Regions from separate parts of the Homo sapiens genome. Here region 2 is linked to region 1. Evidence: fine-mapped expression QTL. A gene starts in region 1. The other region holds a variant in brackets. All regions are shown on one strand. Distances are between the middles of the regions. Region 1 holds the start of MTAP (methylthioadenosine phosphorylase). Region 2 overlaps MTAP (methylthioadenosine phosphorylase).

Evidence for each region.
Region 2: its variant is fine-mapped to the expression of MTAP in whole blood (TOPMed, PIP 0.98).

The regions. Positions count from the first base shown.
Region 1 is chr9:21,798,180-21,807,907 of GRCh38, forward strand. It overlaps MTAP (methylthioadenosine phosphorylase), which reads left to right and starts at 4,457. Exons shown (of 8, transcript NM_002451.4): 1 at 4,457-4,602. The coding sequence starts at 4,570. RefSeq lists enhancers at 3,336-3,966, 3,967-4,595, 5,090-5,299, 6,958-7,102, a silencer at 4,640-4,799 and a cis regulatory region at 7,030-7,031.
Region 2 is chr9:21,821,127-21,830,854 of GRCh38, forward strand. The region is part of intron 4 of MTAP (methylthioadenosine phosphorylase); the gene reads left to right. Among named protein-coding and RNA genes, the nearest start is that of MTAP, 23 kb to the left of the region's middle. The variant C/T (reference allele first, on the strand shown) is at 3,757.

The DNA.
Region 1 (9,728 bases):
TTTCTATACAAAGCACAGAAGCTGAGAATCATGTCTCTTCAGATCAAGATTGAACATACTCTCTCTTTCACTGAGGGAGGTATAGGGTTCAGGGCTTAATCTTACACTTTGCTTATCCTATAACAGAAATAATAATACCTATTATTATTTATAATAGGTATGTGAAGATCCTGGGAGTCCAGGGTAGATGGCCATTCTGTTAACCTGAATATGCTTTTAATGTGCAGCATTAATCTAAGAAAAGTGAAAAAATGGTGAGATTTTACTTCAAAAAATCCAAATTATATGCAACTTAAGTCATCTTCAGTAGAGTTTCAGAAATGATAGGGGAGATACAATTTGAAGTGAACTTTGAAGACAAGACAAGGTGATTTGCAATGAAGGATATTTCTAGGGTAAAAGGGACTTTGAATAGAAGGAACGAATAAAGAAAACTGAAGGAGAACTTGATTCTATTGCAACAAGAAACATATGGCTAATTCCAACTATCTGGAGCATACCAACTTTAAAGCAGACTGTCAAAACTGACCCTACTTAACTCATTTTAAAGCATGGGGTTCTTCCCTCAACCAAAAACACAGATGCCAGGTTACACTTTATAACTGGACTCTCCACTTTCATTAAAGGTCATTATAAGGAATTGCCACCTAAAATGTGATGTAAATATTTTTTGAGAAACCTAGTATATCACTTGCAATTCCCTCTATAAAGTACCTGCAATAAATGCATTTTTAATATTAGATTTCAGTAATATTTTCTTCACTTGTGACATACTACTTATTTTGTTTTATCACTATGATAATGGGAGAATGGAACACTTCTCTTTGTTTTTTGTTCTTATTTCCTTAAAGTTTTAGAGTAATAGTCACATACTAACCTATAAGAAATTTAGAAAGGTTCAATTAGGCCTTCTATGACAAAAATATCTAAGTCTCTAGTTACTAAAATGTTAATGTTTATGTTGTATCATGGTCTATACTGCAGAGTCAGGGTAAAGACACATAGCTGTATTTTTTAGATCAATAATTTGTTCAGTTATTTACAATCAAGAGTGTTAAGAGAACTTGGATTGCAGACAAATCTCTTATACATTTATCCAATTATATTCAATGTTTTTTCAGAAGGGTACCTTAGGACTGGCCTGGTACATACTTGCATATCTTTTGCTTCTTAATAAACACTAGCCACTATTTTCTTTTCAGTACATTTTTTTTCCTTCTTGGGCAGGATAAAGAGAAGTTGATTATTCTGATAATTGCCTGTGGAGAAGTTTCTTTGGATACAATTTTATTAAGGGCATTGAGTCTCTGAGTTTAACTTTTTTCTTCCCAATGACCACACTGTGCACAACGATGATGTTGTGGATTTTGAACCTGAATTTATACCAGTTCAGACATCTTTGGCTTCTTCATGCTGGCATAGGCTTGCCTGGCTGAGAATCTGAAGATGCAATAATTTTTAAAATGTATTACTGTCATTATTATAATTAGTTTACTTATTGTTCCCCCAGATATTTTTTCAACAATGTTCTGCTAAATCTAGAGTGGCTGCTTGCTAATAGAACTTTAGCTTTTTCACAAAGCTTCCAATGTGGGAATCTAATCCATTGTCAAAAGTAGTGGCCAAAATGTCCCTACTCATTGTGGCTGTGATACAGGTGTATTGTAAAAAGATGTGATTCACACACCATTGGGGATCTCTAAGCACACCTCCATGTTATTTAGAATTTTTATTTTGGCCCAAATATCTACAAGGTAGTGGGGAGTTATGTGAGTTTCTTAGGCCATGACAACTTGCCAGCTTTAATACCTTCAGATGAGGATGGGTTACCAGCCAGCTTGGGCCCATTTTGTAGTACCCATCCAGGACAGACATACTGGTCAGGGGCAGAAATATAACAATTCAGTGGGAAAGCTGATATGGTTGGCTGAGGTGATACATTTCATGCATTTGTGTGAATACTTCCTCCTGAAGATTTGATGATTCTGGAATGGTTTGGAGACGACTTCAAAAATAACATGTTTAGTAAAAGGGAACTGTAGGACACTGAAGAACCACTGCTCAAGACCCAACATAGTCAGCTACTGGTGATAACCATTTCAGTACTTTGTTGGCTAGGACCTAGAAGTTGGGAAGACATTTATGAGAGATTATCAAAAAGGGAGAAGCTGTTGGAATCCTTATACTGTTTCATAATCAGAATTGTTGTAAGGTGACCTAGTTCTTGATAATTATCTTTAGAAAAGCAAGGGTACAGGTTAACAGAGGGGGATTTATAGGATAAGAACAGAAGGGCAGGGCAAAATCTATGTTCACAAATAGACCGACTCTCCTTGTCTTGTTGACATAGTAATCAAAAAGGGAGACCACTGAAAATTTTTGCGTATTCAAAATTATTGAAAATTTTGTCTTCCTTTTATTTTAGGGCTTGTTAAGAAAAAACATGACCCAAAATTTGGAAATAAGGCAAAAATATTACTGCCTACCTTTTCAAAGATACTGCACTAAAGAAAGCACTGTCCCACAGGACTGCCCAAGGGTTATCCAAGTCTGGGTAGCAAGGGGTCGTCTGATTCAGGCACTACCCTGAGCGGAAAACAATGGCCCAAGACCTCGACCAAACCCAGCTCTCCACCTGTTTTTGTACAGCTTTGAACTGAGAATGCTTTTTTACAATCTTAAGTGGTTGAGAAAATATCAAAAGTAGAATAATATTTTGTCACATGTAAGTTTACATGAAATTCAAACTTTAGAAGAATTTCCTCTTCACAGACATCACATCTTCAAGAGCAAATGCTTGAGCCCTAACCTGCAAGTTATAGTAGAAAAGTCCAGAAGTCCAGCCTGGTCCTCGCCAAGTTTCCAACTCCTATGCCTAGGGGTATTTTATGCTTACAGGATCTAACTTGGTTACAACGTCTAACTTTTAGCAGAGAGGCAGTGCTGAGTAGAAACTGGACTTGTTAACCATATCAAGTCACTTAAGTTGGCTAGGATCCCCTACTTAGGTAGCGGCCATAAAGCCTAGGGCATCCCTGTGCCCTCAATGGTTCACTTCTGAGTGGTGGGCTTCCTGCTCCTCAATAGAGCAATCGGCAGAAAGGCCCCTAGAAAGCTACATTGTCTTCATCCGCGAAGGATTCCCTGTCTCCTATTCCTCAAAGGAGCACCCGGATTCTACTTTCATTCTTCTTTTGCCATTGCATTTTATAACTTAAAAGAAATAGATGATTGTAACAGAAGAAAGAAAACTTTACATTGTGAGAAAATTTAGACCTAAAGCTTATAGTAATGTGAGGACGAAAGTCTATACTGTTTAAGTAAATAGGTTCTATGAGCAGCATCCAGGCTAACATCACACAGTGGTATTTTGAATTAAATTGTACTTGTGTTTTGTTTCCGTGTTTTGCTGCTGTAAGGAAAGAGGAAAGCATCCCCTTTCTCGGCCCTCCTCCCACGTCCAGGCTAATTTGCAGCATTTCTACATCTCAGAGTCCACCCTTAAGATCCTTGCCACCCATTATTTTGTTTCAGAACGCTTAATCCATCAAGGAAGGTTAAATTGGATTACCCCAGTAGGGAAGGGACGGGGGCTGTAAGCATGAGGGATTATCCCTGTAAAGGGCTCGTGGTGTGTGTGTGTGTGCGTCCTGCTAGTGTTGAATGACGGAGACCTGAGTTTGGATTCTGAATCCAGGTGTATTCGATGCCGCTCCGGCGTAGAACGGGTTAAAGATGCCCCCAGCCAGGTAGAGCCAGACTGGGAGTTGTGCAAGGTCTCAACCCCCTAAAAGCGGCCCCTCAAATTGAAGATGAGTAAATCATAGTTCGTAAATCAGAAAGATTATCCAGTACTACGTTACTCTGTTTATTTCCCTTTCGTCATCCCTGAGTCTTGGGTCAAGTCCATCCCAGCTCTGTCCTCCAGGAATCAAGGGAAATACGCAAACCCGCGGTGGGTTCGCAGCCGCAGGAAGGACAAATCTTGCCCCCGCCGCGGCGGCCGCCCCGCGTTAGCTGCCTAAGAGAATCTCCGTGGCCGGCCAGTACCCGCCTTGGTGAGGATTCTCCCTCCCGCGAGAACTTCTGGAATGCCGCCGGGCCAGATTTTGCAGCTGAGGCCTCCGACGCCACTAATATTGGGCCAAGCAGGGAGTGCTGCTCTTCCTTATAAGGTTTTAGCGAAAGTTAAGTAAGCCAATTAAAGTGCAAAACACACAGTCTGGAACAATACAGCGCTCTATAAATGGTCTCCATTATTATCATTATCCGTTAGTTATAACTGGGGATAAAAAAAAAAAAAAAACGACAAAAACCTGGAGAACCGGAAAGGTCTGCAAAAGGGGCGGAACGCGGGAACTTCGATTTGGGGAAGGGGTGGCGGGGGAGATCCCACACAAGCAGCCAATCCAGCTGTCCCGGGGAGGAAGAGGAGGAGTCAAGGCCCGCCCCTGGTCTCCGCACTGCTCACTCCCGCGCAGTGAGGTTGGCACAGCCACCGCTCTGTGGCTCGCTTGGTTCCCTTAGTCCCGAGCGCTCGCCCACTGCAGATTCCTTTCCCGTGCAGACATGGCCTCTGGCACCACCACCACCGCCGTGAAGGTGAGATGAGCCCTCCCAGCCGCAGCGGTTCGCCCTGCCGGATGCCTTCTCGCCCCCGCGCCGGGGGACCGCGCCTCCGGGGGCCATGCGCCCGGCCCGTGCGTCCCTTGCCGCCGCGGGGAGGGACTGGGGCGCGGCACTCGGGACTCACTTGCCGCGCGAGGAGAGGGTACGCTTGCAAATGATCCCCCTGCCGCACCGCCAACACACACACACACACACACACACACACACACACACACACACACACACACACCACCTTTTGGCTTATCTGCACCCGCACCCTGTAGGGCGTAGGCACCCCTTTAGAGAGAGAGGTCGTGGATGGGAGAGGCTGCACCCATGCCACCACCATTCCTGAGAACCACTCTTCTTCCAAGAAAGACACCCGGCTGGAGTCAGGAGGTGTCCGGGCGCCTGCAGCTTCTGTGACCGTCTCCTGGTGCCTTGCGGGACTCCAGCTTCCGCTCTCTGACTCTGCTTGTTGCCTGCGGCCCACGTGGGAGAACTGCTTACTTGCTCTTTTGTATGCTTCCGGCTTCTTTTTCCTCCAAACGTAGGCCTTCTCCGCGCTGAAGTTTTCCCCAGCAGCGTAATACTGTAAGAATTCTGAGACTTTCTTCGAAAAGGAGTACAGGCGTCCGTTTTTAGGGCTGCACTGTTTGGAGGCCTCTGGCTTGAAACTGCTTTGTTTTGCAGCCTTGCAAGTTAGAGTTCAATTTCCTTGTGCCCTAGGCCCTGAGAGGCCTTGATACAAGGGGTCATTGTGCGGTGGGAAGCTTTGTGCTGAGGAGGGCACGAGTTCTGAGAGTAGCAGCTGGCTTCCCTGGGGTTTTAAACACTTCTCTCCTGGTTAGTATTCCGAGAGAGAATTACAGCACGTAAAGAAAAATTGATGATAAAACTTAAGACCTCTTCTAGGCAGTTTATTACTGGCTAAGAATGCGTTCTTGTTTGATTTTTAGAAATTTTTGGCCTATGGGATAGGAAGGTCTGCGATCTTCTCCAAAGCATCTCGATTCCCTACACTCGACTGCAGTTTTCCCGGGAGAAGGCGAATTTCTGCGGTCAGTGTGTAATCAGCCAGATTAGTTTATTACGCCCTTGCAGGTTTAAATGAGCCACTTAGAATGAGAGGAATGGTGAAGGGTGTTGCATCCAGACTTATATATGAAACTTATTTTGTCATTTTGAAAAGAATCTTGCATCCAGCAAATATTTATAGAAGGCCTCTCCCCTGCCTTCATTGTTTGGCGGAAACAAGGCAGAAATGGTTTTCATGAAACTCGTGTGAAGTATGTGACTTCTCTTAGGTGCTCATCTATAAACTGAGAATTTTACTGCAGAATTTGCTAGGAGGGCTAGAATTATATTGTCTATGTTGCACATGGTAGAAGCTTATTAAGTGGTAGTGCTTATAAGTGGGGGAACTGAGATTAATTTTGAATGATCTTTTCCCCAAAAATTATTAAGTTATTGTGTTAGGTATCATTAGGCCACAACTTTTCACCTTATCCTTGCAGGAATACACTTCAAGCGCCATTAAAAATGGAGAAATGGTGTTTAAAACAGTCTTACTTTAATCTGGTTAGCATTCTCCCTGCCACAGGGTTTCCCTTCAAATTAATGCAGTGCATTTAAGTGCAGAATGGGCAATGGGATTCTCAGAGACCTGATGTAAATATTGAATAGTGTGTATTTTTGGTCTTGGCAAGCTTCTGGATATAAAATTAAGAGGTACATATGGTGCTAGGACTGCCTGCTGATTTCTCTTTTAATTTAGAACAGATGACAGCTTTGCCGTAGAGATTCCATGATGCCAGCACCGTATTCCCCAGACTTCTAAGGCAACATTCTGTATAGAAGATGTGAGGTGCCAGTGTCCAGAGCAAAATAGGTTAATAAAAACCACATCCTATTCCCAAATTATAGAATGATGGGGCTGGAGTGTTCCTTCAAGACCATCCATATAGCCACACAAACCCGTTTTGCGGGTGTAAAGTTGAGGCCCAGAAAGGTCAGCTAAGTATCCAGAATTACACAGCTGGACCTAGATAATGACAGAATTGGGCCTAGAGCCTGGCATTCCACCAACTAGATGTGAGGCATTTCTGAAATCTGAAGTGTGGTCTCTGCCCTGTTTTCTTGTGACCTAATGCACAATTAAAATGAGCACTTGATAGAATGTCCATCTTGAAGAGGGAGGCAGAGGGTATGCAGAAAGCAGGCTGCCTCCAGTGCCCACTGCACACCACCCAGGTATAGGTATAGGAGGCACATGTGTGTCTGAACCCCATTGGTGTCACTGGCAGGTCCTTTGAGAGGTTGCTGGATTTAAATACAGTAACATGTAACACACTCAGCCCAGTTCCAGGTACTCCTTTAATGTCAGCCCAAGTACCTCTCTTCTTAAAATAGAGATATTAACGGGGTGGATCTTAAATTCATTCTCAATTTTAGAGGTGCAGTTAACTCATGCAAGTGAAAGATTCCACTGAGTTTTGGATTGGCAGTATATTTGGCATATCTTTCAAATCTAGCCATCTACTGGTGGAATCCTATTCAAAAATATTTATTGAATACCTGCTAGACAATGGGGATGCAGCTTTGAGTAAGCGAGGCCTTTATTTATTTTCTTCAAGTTTATATTCTAGTCAGGGTGGGAAACCAACTGACATGAAAGTGAAACAGCAGTAAGATTCCATTGGGTGAGGGGTGTCAGAAAAGACTCCTAGGGAGGTGGATTTTAAGCTGTGCAGTAGTCTGCCTCCAAAATCTGTATGTTGAAACCTAATCGCCAATGTGATGGTATTAGAAGATGGGGCCTTTGGGCGTGATTGGGGTCATAAAGGTGGAGCCCTCATGAATGGAAGCAGTGCCCTTACAAAAGAGGCCCCAGAGAGCTGCCTTATTCCCTCTACTAAGTGAGAGGACACCATCTATGAGCCAAAACGTGGGCCTTCCTCAGACACTGAATCTGCTGTGACCTTGAACTTGCTAAGCCTCCAGACTATGAGAAATTTCTGCTGTTTATAAGCCACCCAGTCCTAAGATATTTTGTTATAGCAGCCTGAATGGACTTAAGCTGATAGTGAAAATAGGGATAAAGGGTAAAGATCCAAGTGAAGACCTGAGGAGAGAGATGGGGGTAGGAGAGCGAAAACCAAGATGTCGCAGAAGTGAGCTCAGTGTGGTAGGAATGGAAATCACGGATGCACAGTGAGAATTGGGTGGATGCAGCTCATAAGGCCATCCTTGTAGACCGCGATCAAGAATTTTGATTTTAAATGTTTTGGAAACTGTTGAAGGGTTAAGAGTGGGAGGCAGCATTTGATTTACATTTTAAAATGATTACTCTGGCTGTTGTATACAGAATAGCCTGTGGGCAGGGGAAGAGCTAAGAGATCAGGCCAGAAGTCTTGGTGCTGGGGCTGAAGTCTAGGGTGGGAGCCATGGAGGTGGTGAGGAATAATCAGATTGGGGATAGAATTTGCAGGTAGAACACAGAGATGGATAAGATGTGGGGAGTGCAGGAAGAAGAACAGGATGATTTCTGCTTTTGACCTGGAAAACCAAAAAGATGATGATACTGGTGGATCATTTCAAAGTGGGCGATAAGGGGCCACGAGTGACTCCTTGGAGCCAAGGAGGGTGAGTGTAGGATTCCTTCCTCCCAGATACTGCTGGTTAGGGGGCCAGAGGCTGGGATGCTGAGGGGCCTCTTTGCTGTAGGAGCAGAGTGGGTGGCAGGTTGAGGGAGGGAGGAAGCCACCTGGAGTGAGAGTAATTCAAGCAATCTTTTTTGTGGTTCACTGCAGTGAGAGATGGTCCAGGCAGGGAGTGAGGATATTACCTGGGGGGTAGCCATGGAGAGAGGCAGCAGGAGCCAGAGGCTATGGGATTAACACTGCCATTGTCTGAGAGGACCTCAGGGAGACATTGTCCTCCAGCATCAGCCAAGGGCAGGTGGTATTCCTGACAGAGGGCCAAACCAGTCTTTGGCACCCAGATACAGGGCATTCTGGAGGGCTCCTGCAGTGTACCATGGCTCCCCTGGGCAGCCTCCCAGCTTTCATTCTGGGAGATTAAAAATAAGACTTGGCCAGGCGCGGTGGCTCATGCCTGTAATCCCAACACTTTGGGAGGCCCAGCTGGGCAGATTACCTGAGCTCAGAAGTTCAAGACCAGCCTGGGCAACATGGTGAAACCCCATTTCTACAAAAAATACAAAAATTAGCCAGGCACGGTGCTGCACGCATGTAATCCCAGCTACTCAGGAGGCCAAGGTGGGCGAATCTCTTGAGCCCAGGAGGCAGAGGTTGCAGTGAGCAGAGACTGCGCCATTGCACTCCAGCCTGGGCGACAGAGTAAGATCCTGTCTCAAAATAATAATAATAATAACAACAACTTGTTAATCATGGTTGCTGTGACAAGGAGGGGATATGGTCCCATTGTAGGTTGGTAGTGAGCTATCAACATAATGATATTAAGGGAGATGGACAAGTCATGGTTTGTAGACTGTGGAATATGGGCCTTTACACTCCCTGCTTTGCTGTCTTGAGTGTGGCCTGCAAGGGCCTTCAGCCTGAGAGTCCTTGTGTGGCTATCTGAAACTGAGGACAACCTGCAGGCCCCAGTTGAAAATCACATGACCAACAAGCCTTCATTTTTTTTGCCTAGGGACACAAGGGCATTTTGGGCAGGACAATTATTTCTTTTGTAGGACTGTCCCAAGCATTGCAGGACATGGAGTACAACCCTTAACCTCCTCCACAGAAATGCCAGTAGCACTCCCCCTAGTCATGACAGCCAGAAATAGCCCTGTTTCCAGATACCCCCAGGAGAGCTGTTTGACATTTAGTTGAGGACCCCAAGGCTAAATCCCAAAAAAGACTACCTGCTGAAGAGAGGTAGGAGCAGCCAGGTTTTGTACTGCTCAGCAGAGTAAAAGGAGGAAATAAGGGCTTTTTTTGTTGCTTTGAGGAAGTTTATTTTGATTTTTTATTTTTGCCAGGAGTGGTAGGGTATACAGAAACAGAGACTGATGGTAATACATTATTTCATTTTATTCTCTTGATAATTTTATGGATTAGTAAAAATCTTACCCTATAGGTACAGCTGAGGAA
Region 2 (9,728 bases), 23 kb after region 1:
GCCTGATTGCCCTGGCCAGAACTTCCAGCACTGTGTTGAATAGGAGTGGTGAGAGAGGGCATCCCTGTCTTGTGCCAGTTTTCAAAGGGAATGCTTCCAGTTTTTGCCCATTCAGTATGATATTGGCTGTGGGGTTGTCATAAATAGCTCTTATTATTTTGAGCTACGTCCCATCAATACCTAACTTATTGAGAGTTTTTAGCATGAAGGGCTGTTGAATTTTGTCAAAGGCCTATTCTGCATCTATTGAGATAATCATGTAGTTTTTGTCTTTGGTTCTGTTTATATGCTGGATTATGTTTATTGATTTGCGTATGTTGAACCAGCCTTGCATCCCAGGGATGAAGCCCACTTGATGATGGTGGATAAGCTTTTTGATGTGCTGCTGGATTCAGTTTGCCAGTATTTTATTGAGGATTTTTGCATCGATGTTCATCAGGGATATTGGTCTAAAATTGTCTTTTTTGGTTGTGTCTCTGCCAGGCTTTGGTATCAGGATGATGCTGGCCTCATAAAATGAGTTAGGGAGGATTCCCTCTTTTTTTATTGATTGGAATAGTTTCAGAAGGAATGGTACCAGCTCCTCCTTGTACCTCTGGTAGAATTCGGCTGTGAATCCATCTGGTCCTGGACTTTTTTTGGTTGGTAGGCTATTAATTATTGCCTCAACTTCAGAGCCTGTTTGTTATTGGTCTATTCAGGGATTCAATTTCTTCCTGGTTTAGTCTTGGGAGGGTGTGTGTGTCCAGGAATTTATCCATTTCTTCTAGATTTTCTAGTTTATTTGCATAGAAGTGTTTATAGTATGCTCTGATGGTAGTTTGTATTTCTGTGGGATCGGTGGTGATATCCCCTTTATCATTTTTTATTGCATCTATTTGATTCTTCTCTCTTTTCTTCTTTATTAGTCTTGCTAGTGGTCTATCAATTTTGTTGATCCTTTCAGAAAACCAACTCCTGGATTCATTGATTTTTTGATGGGTTTTTTGTGTCTCTATCTCCTTCAGTTCTTCTCTGATCTTAGTTATTTCTTGTCTTCTGCTAGCTTTTGAATGTGTTTGCTCTTGCTTCTCTAGTTCTTTTCATTGTGATGTTAGGGTGTCAATTTTAGATCTCTCTTGCTTTCTCTTGTGGGCATTTAGTGCTATAAATTTCCCTCTACACACTGCTTTAAATGTGTCCCAGAGATTCTGGTATGTTGTGTATTTGTTCTCATTGGTTTCAAAGAACATCTTTATTTCTGCCTTCGTTTTGTTATGTACCCAGTAGTCATTCAGGAGCAGGTTCTTCAATTTCCATGTAGTTGAGCAGTTTTGGGTGAGTTTCTTAATCCTGAGTTCTAGTTTGATTGCACTGTGGTCTGAGAGATAGTTTGTTATAATTTCTGTTCTTTTACATTTGCTGAGGAGTGCTTTACTTCCAACTATGTGGTCAATTTTGGAATAAGTGTGATGTGGTGCCGAGAAGAATGTATATTCTGTTGATTTGGGGTGGAGAGTTCTGTAGATGTCTGTTAGGTCCGCTTGGTGCAGAGCTGAATTCAATTCCTGGATATCCTTGTTAACTTTCTGTCTCGTTGATCTGTCTAATGTTGACAGTGGGGTGTTAAAGTCTCCCATTATTATTGTGTGGGAGTCTAAGTCTCTTTGTAGATCTCTAAGGACTTGCTTTATGAATCTGGGCTCCTGTATTGGGTGCATATAGATTTAGGATAGTTGGCTCTTCTTGTTGAATTGATCCCTTTACCATTATGTAATGGCCTTCTTTGTCTCTTTTGATCTTTGTTGGTTTAAAGTCTGTTTTATCAGAGACTAGGATTGCAACGACTGCCTTTTTTTGTTTTCCATTTGCTTGGTAGATCTTCCTCCATCCCTTTATTTTGAGCCTATGTGTGTCTCTGCACGTGAGTTGGGTCTCCTGAATACAGCACACTGATGGGTCTTGACTCTTTATCCAATTTGCCAGTCTGTGTCTTTTAATTGGAGCATTTAGCCCATTTACATTTAAGGTTAATATTGTTATGTGTGAATTTGATCCTGTCACTATGATGTTAGCTGGTTATTTTGGTCGTTAGTTGATGCAGTTTCTTCCTAGCATCGATGGTCTTTATATTTTGGCATGTTTTTGCAGTGGCTGGTACCAGTTGTTCCTTTCCTCCAGGAGCTCTTTTAGGGCAGGCATGGTGGTGACAAAATCCTCAGCATTTGCTTGTCTGTAAAGGATTTTATTTCTCCTTCTCTTATGAAGCTTAGTTTGGCTGGATATGAAATTCTGGGTTGAAAATTCTTTTCTTTAAGAATGTTGAATATTGGCCCCCACTCTCTTCTGGCTTGTAGAGTTTCTGCCGAGAGATCTGCTTTTAGTCTGATGGGCTTCCCTTGTGGGTAACCCGACCTTTCTCTCTGGCTGTCCTTAACATTTTTTCCTTCATTTCAACTTTGGTGAATCTGACAATTATGTGTCTTGGAGTTGCTCTTCTCGAGGAGTATCTTTGTGGCGTTCTCTGTATTTCCTGAGTTTGAATGTTGGCCTGCCTTGCTAGATTGGGGAAGTTCTCCTGGATAATATCCTGCAGACTGTTTTCCAACTTGGTTCCATTCTCTCTGTCACTTTCCGGTACACCAATCAGATGTAGATTTGGTCTTTTCACATAGTCCCATATTTCTTGGAGGCTTCGTTCATTTCTTTTTACTCTTTTTTCTCTAAACTTCTCGCTTCATTTCATTCATCTGATCTTCAATCACTGATACCCTTTCTTCCAGTTGATGGAATCGGCTACTGAGGCTTGTGCATTCGTCACGTAGTTCTCGTACTATGGTTTTCAGCTCCATCAGGTCATTTAAGGACTTCTCTACACTGGTTATTCTAGTTAGCCATTCGTCTAATCTTTTTTCAAGGTTTTTAGCTTCTTTGCATTGGGTTCGAATTTCCTTCTTTAGCTCAGAGAAGTTTGATTGTCTGAAGCCTTCTCTCAACTCGTCAGTCATTCTCCATCCAGCTTTGTTCCATTGCTGGCGAGGAGCTGTGTTCCTTTGGAGGGGGAGAGGTGCTCTGATTTTTAGAATTTTCAGCTTTTCTGCCCTATTTTTTCCCCATCTTTGTGGTTTTATCTACCTTTGGTCTTTGATGATGGTGACATACAGATGTGGTTTTGGTGTGGATGTCCTTTCTGTTTGTTAGTTTTCCTTCTAACAGTCAGGACCCTCAGCTGCAGGTCTGTTGGAGTTTGCTGGAGGTCCACTCCAGACCCTGTTTGCCTGGATATCAGCAGTGGAGGCTGCAGAACGGCGAATGTTGCTGAACAGCAAATGTTCCTGCCTGATTGTTCCTCTGGAAGCTTCGTCTCAGAGGGGTACCCAGCCGTGTGAGGTGTCAGTCTGCCCTACTGGGGGGTGCCTCACAGTTAGCCTACTCGGGGTTCAGGGACCCACCTGAGGAGGCAGTCTGTCCATTCTCAGATCTCAAACTCTGTGCTGGGAGAACCACTACTCTCTTCAAAGCTGTCAGACAGGGACATTTAAGTCTGCAGAGGTTTCTGCTGCCTTTTGTTTGGCTATGCCCTGCCCCCAGAGTTGGAGTCTACAGAGGCAGGCAGGCCTCCTTGAGCTGTGGTGGGCTCCACCCAGTTAGAGCTTCCCAGCCACTTTGTTTACCTACTCAAGCCTCAGCAGTGGTGGGCGCCCATCCCCCAGCCTTGCCGCCGCCTTGCAGTTTGATCTCAGGCTGCTGTGCTAGCAATAAGCGAGGCTCTGTGGG[C/T]GTGGGACCCTCCGAGCTATGCACGGGATATAATCTCCTGGTGTGCCGTTTGCTAAGACAGTTGGAAAAGCACAGTATTAGGGTGGCAGTGACCCGATTTTCCAGGTGCCGTCTGTCACCCCTTCCCTTTGCTAGGAAAGGGAATTCCTTGACCCCTTACGCTTCCTAGGTGAGGCGATGCCTCACCCTGCTTTGGCTCACACTCGATGGGCTGCACCCGCTCTCCGGCACCCACTGTCCGACAAGCCCCAGTGAGATGAACCCGGTACCTAAGTTGGAAATACAGAAATCACCTGTCTTCTGCATTGCTCATGCTGGGAGCTGTAGACTGGAGCTGTTCCTATTAGGCCATCTTGGAACCGCCTCTCCCACATTTTCTTTATCTGTTCATCTGTTGATGGACGTTTATGTTGCTTCCATATCTTGGCTATTGTGAATAATGCTGCAGGGACCATGGAAGTGCTGATGTCTTTCTTGACGTAAAATTTCATTTCCTTATACACTCTGAGATGGGATTCTTGGATCATGTGGTAGTTGATATTTTCAGTTTTTTGGGGAATTTTAGTAATGGCTGTATTAATTTATATTCCTACCAGCAGTATACAAGGGTTCTGTTTTTGTCACATCCTCATCAACACTTACTTTGTTTTGTCATTTTGATAATGGCCATTGTGGCCTGGCACAGTGGTTCACGCCTGTAATCCTAGCACTTTGAGAGGTTGAAGCAAGAGGATTGCTTGAGCCCAGAAGTTTGAGACCAGCTTGGGCAACATAGTGAGACCTTGTCTCTGTAAAAAATAAAACAAAAATTAGCCATGTGTGTTGATATACAGCCATTGTCCCAGATACTTAAGAGACTGAGGTGGGAGAATCGCTTGAGCCTGGGAGGTCAAGGCTAGAATGATTCATGAATGCACCACTACACTCCAGCCTGGGTGACAGCAAAAAAGCCATTCAGGTGTGAGGTGATATCTTATTGTGGTTTTTATTTGCATTTTCTTGATGATTAGTGATGTTGAGCATTTTTCATACAGCTGTTGTCCATTTATGTGTCTTCTTTTGAGGAATGTCTATTCAAGTCCTTTGCCTATTTTTTTAATCAGGTTGTGTTTTTAGAACTTTCTTTCATTTAGTTTCCTTACGTATTTTGGGTATTAACCCCTTATCCGAGGTATGGTTTGTAAACATTTTTTTCCTATCTATAGGCTGTCTCTTTATATTATGGGAATTTTTAAACATATACACAAAAGAATAATAATCAGGGACTCTCTAAGTTCCTAATTCCTAGCTTCAAGAGAACATTTTCTTTTTTTTTTTTTTTAAAGAGAGTATAAATTAGTATTTCCTTAGTATTAGATATCTAGGAAGTTCTCTCTATTGTCTCATGAACTTTTTTTTTAATAGTTGGTTTGTTCAAATAAGGGTCCACTCATTACACACATAAGCTTAATAAGCCTTCTAGTCTGGAAGATTCCACCTTCTTTTTTCCTTTTCCTTTTACTGCCTATCCACATTCTGGATGTTACTAATTGTATCAAGTGTCATTTAGTGTCTTCTCCCGGCCCCTGTGTTTGCTATAAACTGGATTTAGTTCTGGTGGCCTGATCAGAACCAGGTTTGAATTCTTGGCAAGGATCCTTCCTTCTGCATCCTGTCGGAAGGCATGTGATGTCCAGTTGTCCCTTCATAATGCGATCGATCAGGTGCCAGAGGTGCTGGGGTTTTGTTTATTATTATTATTATTATTATTATTATTATTATTATTATTTAACTGCACAAGTAATATATATTGTTCCTTTACCCCCCCAAAAAAACAACAATAATAGACTGCCAAATTTTTGGACCTTTTCTGCATTTAGAGGTAGTTGAAATCACAAGGGAAAGTGGTGGTCTCTAGGTCAGGGATCCCCCACCCCTGTGGCTTGTTAGGAACCGGGCTGCACAGAAGAAGGTGAGCCGTGGGGCGAGAGCGAGCATTACCACCTGAGCTCCCCATCCTGTCAGATCAGCAGCAGCATTAGAGTCTCATAGGAGCAGGAACCCAATTGTGAACTGCACGTGGAAGGGATCTGTGTTGTGCACTCCTTATGAAAATCTAACTAATGCCTGATGATCTGAGGTGGAAGAGTTTCATCCTGAAACCATCCCCTCTGACCCTCTCTGTGGAAAAATTATCTTCCATGAAATCAGTCCCCGGTGCCAAAAAGATTAGGGGCAGCTGTACTAGGGCCACCCCCTCCCCTATTCCTGGTAGAAATAATTGCCTCTCAGAATGCTCTGGGTGAAGACAGGAGCCTCCTGGGCTGGATGGAGAGTGGAGAGTAGCGCAGAGTTAAATCATTTGGGGATCCTTCCACAATCCCCCATCCAATCACCCTGCCTACCACCTCAGTCCATGCTGCTCCTCCCATCAGTTATCTCTGAGCTTACTGTACTCACAGCCTGCTCCTAGAGCTTCTGCTATGGGAGAGAGGGTTGTCCAGTCCAGGCCACTGTGGCTTCTGCCTTTCAGGGATTCATTATAATTTCCAGTCTATCAGAAGCATTCTTGGTTGTTTCCTGATGGAATGAAACTGTTTTGAAATTGCCCATTCTGTAGGTCAGAAATGGTTGAATATCAGCAGTTTCATGTGGTTCAACCTAATAAATAATGGGGTTAGACTAAAATGGTTACATATTTCTCACCCCAAGTTATGTCCTTATAATGTATTTATACCTGACATTATATATTTGTGACCTGTTTCCCTCTAAGCCATGTGAGATCAAAGTCACTTTCTGCCCAGTTTGCACCATATCACCAACACCCACAACAGTTCCTGGCCCATCTTTGCTCTGTCAGTAATTTTTGAGGGCTTGAACATAGTCATTTGAATAGAGAGATAGGCTGGAGTTTGTGTTTTGGAGACATCTTGATCAAAATCTCAATGGCTGTCAACGTCCATGTGTTTGGAGGTAATAGTTTAAGAAAATGATTATAATATGATTGCTAAATAGAGTGGAATACAAAACTCCATATTCAGGATGATCCAGATGTATAAAGTATTACAGATGATACTGTAAAGTCTGAATTGGGCACTGAGCCTTGGGTTAATCTGTTACTTAAACAGTATGACTATACGCTGTTGCATTTCCCAGATCTTTTACTCACATGTCTTAAATGTAGATGTTTCACATACTGGCTCTTTCAAGAAAGCAGTTGGGTCAGAAGATGGAGACTAGAAAGAAAACAGGTATTGCCATCAGATCTGGTTTCATTCTATCTTAGCCAGGTAACCTTAAGATCTTCTACTATTTTTCTGTTTATGAGACATATGGATAACCTGCCCTCTTAATGTTTCCTTGGAAGTTCAAAGTCTCTAATAAGTGCCTTTTGTGGGATCTTGCATGTGTTAACCTTCTCAGTAACTGAGTGCCATTATTGAGAGTGTGTGCATACTGGCTGGAGGGTCCACTAGTTGACACTACTTTACAACAACAGGAGGAAAGAATCTGTTAAAAGAAGGATCCCTGGCAGGGTGCAGTGGCTCACGCCTGTAATCCCAACATTTTGGGAGGCTGAGGCAGGCAGATCACCTGAGGTCAGGAGTTCGAGACCAGCCTGGTCAACATGGTGAAACCCCGTCTTTACTAAAAATACAAAAAAAAAGTAGCCAGGTGTGGTGAGCACCTGTAATCCCAGCTACTCGGAAGGCTGAGGCAGGAGAATTGCTTGAACCCAGGAGGCAGAGGTTACAGTGAACCGAGATTGCTCCATTGCACTCCAGCCTAGGCAACAAGAGTGAAACTCCATCTCAAAAAAAAAGAAGGATCCCTAAGAGAATATAATTTAGCATGAAATCTCAATTTTTACATTGATTACTTATTTGGGGTGATAACGTTTTGAATATATTAGGTTAGACAAGATTTTAAAGTTAATTTTACCTGTTTCTCTTTTACTTTTTCAGTGACCACTAGAAATTTTAAAACTATGTAGGTGGCTAACATCATATTGCTGTTGGATGCATCTTTTAAGTGCTGCTGCCTTTGATTGAGCTGAGTGGGTTCCAGTTAACCAGGCTTGAGCACATATATCATTCATTATGTGTTTGAACATCTCATAGCAGAAGATGCCTTGCATATATATCATTCATTATGTGTTTGAACATCTCATAGCAGAAGATGCCTTGTGGTTAATGCCCTCTATGTGTTTTACTGATAGCACATTTCTTAGTAAAGTGAATCTTGGTGTATTGAGACGGGCATCTCCTACCTCCACTTGCTGATGGCATCAGATACAAATAGGCTGTGCCATTTTTAGCCTGGGGTTTCCCAGAGTCATACCCACAGCCCCAACTTGTTTAACAGGATTGTAACATCCTGTAAAGCCACCCCGTGGATTATAGAATTCCAGGGCAGCTGGGGCAGGAGCATTGAATCAGGAGGTTTCATCTTGACTCTGTTTGGCCCTGTGCAAATCACTTTACCCACTACACGTTGGTTCTTTCTTCCCAATGGAGGGCTGAATTGCACCATCTCTCTCTCTCATTCTTTTGTTGTTTTTTTTTTTTGTTTGTTTGTTTTTTTGAGACAGTCCCACTCTGTTGCCCAGGCTAGACTGCAGTAATGCAATCTCGGCTCACTGCAAGTGTGAGCCACTGTGCCTGGCCAGGCTCCTTTTCCCTACACTGCCCGTGTATTCTCTCCAGGGACTTACCTAGAACCACACACATTGGCCTATTGCCGTAAGTTTGTCAGCACGTTGTCTCAGAAAAAAAAAAAAATCCTCATCCTAAAGTGTTCTTCAAAGGCTAGCGAGATTGTTTAATAATACGGCTATTCTTATTTTATAGATGGCCAAGCTAAAGCACATCATTTTCTTTTCCTTCAGTGCCAGCATGAGCAGGGCGGGGGGACCAACCTCAGATTTAAGAAAGACATGTGGCTGATTTTTAGGGTTGTTTTTAGAAACATTAGATTTCTTCTCTAATAATGAAATATACTTTTGAAGGACTCTGACAATGCTGGAAGCTCTTTTAAGAAAAATGTCATTCTTATCTGAAAATCTTTTTTTTTCTTCTCTCTCTCATGCTACATTACAGCTGATGAAGTTAAAAAGCCTGGGCATAAGAAAAGGGGAGCCCTGGGTGTGACTGCCCTGGAAAAAGAGGTAGAGAGTGCAGTGGGTTCAAGTATGTTTGGGTATGTGCAGTCAGTCTTTGTGTCTTTCTCATTCAAGTAAATTCCATAGCAATTAAAGTGAAAATAATCATCTTTCATTTGTGAGTAGAGCATCCATAGAAAGCAACATATATCTTGGTCTAGAACTTAAATTCCAAAAGAATGTGTTATATTTTTCATTTTCCCGTTTTTGTTGCACAGGGACGAGTTTCCTGATGCTTCCTTGCCATAGGCCCTGGGCTCTGTGTGTAGTGTTCTTCCCAAACCAAAAATTAAAAATAGGAAAATCAGAATCTATACCAAGAACTTTGTCTAGGAGGCTTGTCTGCAGTAGGTTTCTTCAGTGCCTATGCCTCCTGCTGGATTGTGTTTGATTAATCCATTTCTTTTAACTTGTACAAGGTCCCCATTGTTAGAGCCACAAGTCATTTGGCCACTGAGGGTAAAAGATGGTTAGGAGTGGGATTTGTTCCACTTCTTTGCAGCGATTAAACAGTCAGTTTGAACTGGGGAAAGTATTTGACCTTTAGTCTGTCCTAAAAGAATGTCATCAGGCTGTTTATACATTAAAAGGCTCTCATAAGATATGTACTCCCAGATTCATAATTTTGGAACTTCTCTCCTATGGTACACACCCTTGTATGTATGCACACCTGGCTCTCACTGAGTCACTTATGGGAAACTGAAGCAAGTTTTTCTATTAATAGGGGAAAAAAGACCTCATAAAAGAGTCAAAGTAAATGAGACTTAGAGAAATGTAGAAGCATGACTATGCATCACTGGGCCTTTGCTTAGTTTTTATTCATCAGCCATGG